Homo sapiens: one gene and its partner. The protein of the gene in region 2 interacts with the protein of the main gene of each other region in a pairwise test. Each region holds a gene or a part of one and is shown on either strand. Other genes may lie near its edges.

Evidence for each region. The genes of interacting proteins can lie anywhere in the genome.
Region 1: the proteins of CPEB2 (region 2) and ERI3 interact in a two-hybrid assay, tested with the Homo sapiens proteins (one study listed by BioGRID).

The regions. Positions count from the first base shown.
Region 1 is NC_000001.11:44,353,459-44,357,206, reverse strand, and holds the start of ERI3 (ERI1 exoribonuclease 3), read left to right. Parts: upstream 1-1,949; 5' UTR 1,950-2,180; coding exon 2,181-2,315; coding exon of another isoform or gene 2,316-2,369; exon of another isoform or gene 2,370-2,454; coding exon of another isoform or gene 2,455-2,502; intron 2,503-3,748.
Region 2 is NC_000004.12:15,000,386-15,004,133, reverse strand, and holds the start of CPEB2 (cytoplasmic polyadenylation element-binding protein 2), read right to left. Parts: upstream 1,654-3,748; 5' UTR 1,461-1,653; coding exon 1-1,460. UniProt on the Homo sapiens protein: May play a role in translational regulation of stored mRNAs in transcriptionally inactive haploid spermatids. Binds to poly(U) RNA oligomers. Required for cell cycle progression, specifically for the transition from metaphase to anaphase.

The DNA of each region.
Region 1 (3,748 bases), on a different chromosome or scaffold from region 2:
AACTTACAGTGTGGTGAAGTCCTGGAAGCTGTACAGTTGAGCCCTAGTGCACCAAGGAGGAAAGAACACATTCTGGGGAAGTCAAGGGGACCATGGAAGGCTCCACAGAGGATGTTGGGGCTGGGCATTACATAAAGCCTTGAATCCAGATACTATAGATTTACTTCATTCTTACAGCCAAGAAGATTGGCTGTGCCCTACTCTCAGGCCATAACTCAGTATATAACAAAGCTATCTCACTGCCTCTTGTCTTATTTTTATATTTACTTGTTTTATTATCTATTCTTCCTCCTACAGCCCCTCCCCAATTTATTTATTATGGCTCACTGCAGCTTTGTCCTCCCAGGCTCCAGTGATCCTCCCACCTCAGCCTCCTGAGTACCTGGGACTACAAGCACGTGCCACCATGCCTGCCTAATTTTTAACTTGTTTGTAGAGATGAGAATCTCATTATGTTGCCCAAGCTGGTCTTGAACTCCTGGTCTCAAAGGATCCTCCTGCCTCAGACTCCCAAAGTGTTAGAATTACAGACGTGAGCCACGACACCCAGCTTCCCTCTCCAATTTAAAAGCTCCTTGAGAATAGAGGTGTGTCGTTATTCATCAATGAATCCTCAGCAACAGAAACAGTGCCTGACACTTAAGAGAGGCACTATAAATACAGATGGACTGACTGACCAACTGGGGTTAATGTGTAGGTAATAATAGGAGAATCTGTTCCAGCTCCAAGAGTTGGGGGATAGTGCCTCCACTTTACTGACCTCGGGATAAGTCTGTCCCTGCTGCTGGATATTCCCTCATTTGTTCGCAGACATTTATTGCGGGCCTTCTTTATACCTGCCCTATGCGGTGTATTACTGATACAACATGAACAATATGGAAAAAATGCTTTTCCTAAAGGACTTAAAACCCTGTGGGAGCGACAACAAGGAAACAGACAATTATAAGACAATATGATAAATGCTATAGGTCCACAGCAGAATCACCTAACCTATGACGTGGGTGGGATTAAGGAAGGCATTCCCTGATATGGGGATTACCAGGCACTCTCAGCTCAGGTGGAAACCGTTATGGTAAGGTCCGCTCTCAGAGGTGGTAGGGCCCAGAAATGACATCATCCTAAGTGTAAGTATGCAGACAGCACACAGAGGGGCTTGGTAACTGAAGCTGGGCCCAGAGGATGGGGTCCTGACCGATTGGGAAGCTGTCAAAGCCATCATTCCCAGCTCATAACCTGGGACCCATGACTACCCAGAAAGGCATAACCAGGATGAAGAAACACAGGTCTCTCCAGCTTACTGGAGAGACTGACTGGGGAAGCTCCTCACAGCTGAGGCCAGAAACCTTTTAAACAGAAGTTTCCTCTGAGTGGACCTGAACAAGCCAGTTCCCTCTTCCTTAGGACGGCCCTTCACAAATCTAAGCATTTTCCTCTTAGCTTAATCCCTCCTTGTCTCAGGTCTCCCCCAGGCCCACATCCGAAAGTAGATGACAATAATTACTTGTTGAATGAACGAATCATGAGGAGTCATGTAAATAGAATTCTGTCACGTTGTGAGCCCACATTCACCTTACGGGTATATTGGAGGGCGGGAAAACGGAGATGGGGGGCTCCACTAATGTGTGTCTGTGATCCTGGTTAGATCGCTGTAGGCCATAGAAAGTTTCATTTTAAAAAAATTCCTTTCACAGATCAGAAGTGATGTCCCCGTCCCCGTCTTCTCTTCTGAGTTTGTGCAACGTCAAAACTACAAGTCCCATAAGGCCGGCGGCCGGGAGTCACCATCTTGACATACCTTAGCGCGCATGTCGGCGGGAGAGCGAGCGTTTGGGGAGAAGAAGCCCCGCCTGACTGCAGCCCATTGGTCAAAGGGGTCGGCAGCGGGCTCAGCGGTTGGCCACAGCGCCCGCCCGTCCGCCGCGTCGGTCGGGGTCAGAGTGCGCGGAGGTGAGTCGGTGTGTTGTGGACTCGTGGTGCTGGCTGCCGCTGTTCAGGCGGCCGGGAACGGGCGGTGGGGAGCGGGCGGAGCTGGCCCTGCCTCTGCCTGGCCGGCGCCGCAGTCGGCGCGGGCCGCGCCCGCCGCCGCCAACTGCCCTGAGCGCTTGCTGAGGCCGAGGGAGACGTCGGGGCCTGCACCTGGAGGGAGCCTGCCGCGCTGGCCCCGAGGAGGGGGCGTTGCCATGGCGACAGCCTCTCCCGCTGCTGACGGGGGGCGGGGGCGGCCCTGGGAAGGAGGGCTGGTCTCCTGGCCCCCCGCCCCTCCCCTTACTCTCCCCTGGACTTGGATGGGCCCGAGTTGGGGGCAACACCCCGGGGTGGGTGATGCTGAATGGCCCCGCCAAGATTGGGCCCTGGTTAATGCATGCGGGGTGAGGGTCGCGGTGCGCAGAATTTATGCAACCTGGGGTGCTGGCCCATGTGCTTACCCTGGATGCTTACTTAATCTACTGAGTAATGTTCTGGCGGAGGGGGAGCGGGGCAGAGCTTTGCAAGACAGGATGGGTGAGTTTATTAAGGGGGTTGACTTACTGGGATTACTAGAGAAGAAAAAGGTTTGACTAGAGAGGCTAGAAATGGAGCATGGAGATTGTGGGTAGAACATTCCCTTGACCCTCTCGCCAACACATGCCCACACACCAGGTTAGCAGTTTACCTCTTTGTAAATCTGAAGCGGTGGTAGTAGTGATGGTGGAAGGAGTGAATAAGGGCCTAACCTGGCTAGCTTTCTGTTTGCCTGTCTTGCAAATGGTCCAGCAACAGGTGTTTTCTTAAAAAAAGCATGAACTTGGATTGAGGCTTGACTGCGAGTTCTTGCAAAATATAACTGCTCCTTGTTGACTTGGAAGATGCTGGATGTGGGGCCCCTCAATGGGGGTTTGGATTTTGTCCTTAGAGCTGGATTTTGCAACAAATAGTGCCCATCGTTGTGTCTGCGAGAGGTCTCTGGCCACTTCAATGGCATTTACTCTTGTCAGACATTTAATCAGTCTCCCAGCGGAAGGGCAGCAAAACATGAATCCTATTGGCTAAAAGAGTGTACGCTATTCAAACTATAGTAGGTTGTGAGTGGCTAAATGAGTTTTGATTGTAGAGTTTCTTCCAGAAATTGGCTTCATCAAATTCTGCTTTATTCTGACTTTATCATATACAGCATGCCTTGTTTTAGTGGGTTCTTGCTTGGAGCTTAGTTTATTATACCTGAATCTCCTACCATTTAAAAGCCAATTTATAAACAGGGACTTGGAGTGTGACTCCACTAATGTGTGTCTGTGATCCTGGTTAGAAACCCACTTGGCTGCCTTTTCCTCAGGAGGTGGGGGTTGGGGGAAGGGAGCTGCCGGGAAGTGATTGATAAGGTTTCCTTTATAGATTCTGTGGTGCTTCACTGGAGCTCAGAGCACTTTGGCAACTTAAGCACTCCAAATTAAAAGCTCATTAACAATTCCTGCCCAAAGATCCTGTAAATAATCAGCTAGCTAGGTCATAGAGCTTGGCTAAGAGCTTTTCTTCCAACTTGAAATTTCCAAATAAAAGTGCTTTTATTCCCTTTCATTTTAAAAAGTGTTTTCTTTGTGGTGGGGTAAATTGGTGAGTGGCCTTTTCCCAGGGGATCTGAGTAGAAGAAAGTCTTAAATGTGTGGAATGGTAGACAGGAATATATTAGTTCCAACCCTAGGTGTTTCTTTATGCAAAAGACATCACTAACAGGGGCATCTCTGCAACTTCTGGTCCTTTGGAGGATATGAAT
Region 2 (3,748 bases):
CCGCCGCCGCCGCCGCCGCTCGTCGGAACGCTGAGCCCAGTGCAGCCGTGCGGCGACACGGGCGAGAAGCTAGGGAAGAAGGCCGGGTTCATGGACGACGGCAGCCCGGGGTAGAAGCCGTTCTCTGAGTCGGGGCTGGGCGGCGGCATGGCGCTGAGCGAGCCGCCGCTGCCGCCGCCCGGGGTGGTGGCAGACGAGCCGGGCGGCTGCGGCTGCGGCTGGGGCGGCTGCTGGGGTGGCGGCGGCTGCTGCTGCGGCTGGGTCGGCGGCGGCTGCTGGGGCTGGGGTGGCGGCGACGCGGTCTGCACCGACCAGGGGGTGCCGAAGCCGGGCAGCGGCGGCGGCGACGCGGAGCCGCCTCCCCCTCCGCCTCCTGGGGGCCCCCCGCCCCCGCCGCCGCCGCCGCCGCCCGGGTGTGGAAGGTCCGGGCTCTGCAGGCTGCTGAAGGCGCCCGCGCCAAGCGCACCTCCGGGCAGGAGGTTACTGGGACTGTTGAGCAGAGGGTGGTTGGGGGACTCCATGGAGCCCGGCGCGGGGTTCACCGGCGTCGAGGAGGCCAAGCCCGCATTGGGGGACTCGGCGGCGCTGCCCTCGCCCGCGGCTGGGGTCTTGCGAGGGCTGCCCGCGCCTCCGTGGCGGCGCCGCGGGGCTGCAGGCGGCGAGGGAGGGAGCTGCGGGAGCGGGGGCAGGTCTGCCGGACGCTGCCGCGGGGCGAAGTCCTGCGGCGAGAGGTGCTGCTGATGCAGGAGGCTGAACTGCTGCGGCGGCTGTTGCTGCTGGCGCTGAGCGAGCTGCGCCGGCTGGAGGAGCGGGCCGGCTGGCGGCGGCGGCGGGCTGAACCGACCGGGGCAGTGGAGCGGCGGAGGCGGCGGCGGCGGCTTCGAGTCCGGAGGGTGGGGAAGGTGGGGAGGGCTGAACTCTTTCCTCTTCTGGCTGCTCAGCTGCTGCTGCTGCCGCTTACTGAAGTCCTGCGGGGAGGAGGTGCGGCAGCAGCAGCAGGAGGAGGCGGAGGAGGAGGAGGGGTGGTGCAGACTCGGTTTGAAGTCCTGGGAGGGGAGGAGGTGGGTCACACCCGCGATCGTGCCGCCGCCGGGGTGGTGGTCGGGGAGTTTCTCCGTGGCCGCCGCCCCCGAAAGCGGCCGCGCCGGCTGCTGTGTCAGCCCCAGAAGCAGCTCATCCTGCATGGTCTGCTGATGCGCCAGGAACGGGGAGGAAGAGGAAGCGGCGGCGGCCGGGCTGCCCGCGCCGCCGCCGAGGGGGACGGAGAAGGGGGAGGCGGCCTCTAAGAAGCCGGTGACAGGCAACGGTGGTGGCGACAGTGGGCCGAAGGGCGTGGCGGAGGGCAGCGGGTTGACGGACCCCACGGCGTAAGGACCATACGCCTCGCCGCAGAACAGGGGCCCAGGACTGCTACTTCGGAGCGGGGCGGTCTGCAGCACCCCAAACCCGAAATCCCTCATTTATCAGGCCGCCGGCAGCGGGAGGAGACGCTCCTCGTCCCCTGCCCCACCTAGGAAGCCGCCGGCGCTGGGGTTGCGCGGCCGTGGTGGAAGGAGGGGGAGTCAGTGAGAGAGGGACACCGTGACTGAGCCAGGGGGCACCGACTTCGGCCCCACCACCCCTCGCGGCGATCGCCGCCGCCGCCGCCGTCGCAGTCGCCGTAGCCGCCCTGGCCGCTTAAGAACCCCGGAACGTGCGTCAGCGCCACCTCACAATCGCGCCGCCCCCCGCGGTGCGTCCCGGCACGCGCGGGCGCGAGGCCACCGCGTCCCCGTCGCCCCTCCCCGCCCCTCATTACTATGCAGACGCAGCCGAGGGCGCGCTCGCGCTCCCGGGAGGGCGGGAGCGAGCGGCGTGTCCCGTTGGGTCTCTCCGCTCCCGGGGAAATGGACAGGCCGGTTGGGGTGGGGGTCGGCTGGCAAACAGTGGTCGGGAGCATTGGGCGGGCGCGCGCACGAGGGCAAGCACGCGCGGGAGGGAGGGACGGTTCCTGGGCAACGGCCCCTCCTTGGCGCGGGATCCGCGCAGAGTCTGCCTGGGTCGCACGCGTCTCCGCCCCTCGCGGTGCCTCCTCCTTCCTGTCACCTCGGTTCCGCCCTGGGTGGGGAGAAGCCCTGCTGCACCACTCGGGCTTCCCAGAGCGGGGCTGGCCCGCGGGGGAAACTGAGGCCCGGGACCCCGACCGGCGCCTGCACTGTGCGACCCGCGTAGAAATAGGCGCCCGAGGGGCCCCCAGCGCAACGCGGGAGCCCGGCCCAGCCCGGGGGTCCTGTGGTGAACTAGCGTCTGGGCTCTGCCGGCTTGAAGTCCGCTGAGCGCCTCGCCGCGCACCTCTAGACCCCGAGTCCCCGATCTAGGGCCTCCTTGTAGCCCTAGGTAGCGCCCTCTAAGCTTGTTTCTGTTTTTAGGCGCTGGTAGGAGTGCTGTCACCGACGTCGTAGAGCCGCCGAGGGTGTTTCTGTAGGGTAAACATGAAGCCTCGGCTATATTCCAGGCATTTTCACTTGGGTAAGAAGGAACAAAGTCCCTGGAACAAACACGCTCCGCGTGGTTATTTACACACTCGGATGCGTGGAACGGGTTCCACGGCGAGCTCCCATAGTAACCCCGGGCCAGCTCCGCTTCATAAAAGCCTTTCGTGTGCCATCAGGGCTGCAGCGTGGGACTCCTCCCCACCACATTCATTCCGGCGTCCCCGCCCCTTCCCCCCAGGGAGACTCTAATTTATTCCTAAGCTTTATGAATTTTCAAGGGAGAAATAGTTCTTACATCAGGGAAAAAAGGAGGTTCTGACTCAGCAGCAGACTTGTTGAGACTTGCAAAATGGAAGGGAGAGAGCTTTCCATGGTAGAGCTCTTTAGAAGCATTAGAGGAGGAACTAATCCTGTGTTTCCTTTTGTATAGAAACATTTTACATAAAGTATTTGAAGGTCTAGATAAAGAATAACAGAGTGATCCATACTACATGATGAGGTGAACTTTATGTTTCTGTTTTGTAATTTTAACTGTTTTGCTTGATGCTTAGAGAAATGAAACTATTAAATGAATCCTAGAATATAGACTCAAACCCCCAAAGCAATAGAAGGTGGATTCAGACTTTACTTGATTTTGGTTTACAAGTGAACTAAGATTAAATATTTAATTTTATAAATTAGCATACTCTTACTGATGTAGGCAGAGTGTACATTTTTATAAGTCCTCATTCTCTATTTGAATTCTACTTCTGTTCAGTGTCTCAAATTTATATAAATCGAAATAAACATGGTAGAAAGAGAGCAACATTGCCCCAGGGAACTATACTTCATGTATAATGTTTATCTCTGCTATCCTGTCCAATGAACCAAGTTTTATGTTGCCTTTACAATAAGGAAAAAGTACTTTTTAAAAAACTCAAATGGTTCAGAATTTGGTCAGGTGAATAGAAAATTGGTTCAACTTATTAATCTCAAAATCATTTTTAACAGTCAGGCAAAATGTAGAACTGGAGAAGTATTTTTATTCTAAATTACAATGTCTAGAAAATAACCTGAGCTCAGAATTTAAAATATAAATGGTTATTTTCAGAGTATATATTGACATATTAAATATTCATTTTTTAAAAGGTATTGTGCAGGAAAAAAAACTACTTCTGCAACTAAGGAATGTAAAGTCTTAACAACGGATGATTTTTTTCCAAGTACAGTTGTATTTGATTGGAATCATTTGCAGATCCAACAACAAATCTTGAAATAGGGGGAAAATACAGGTA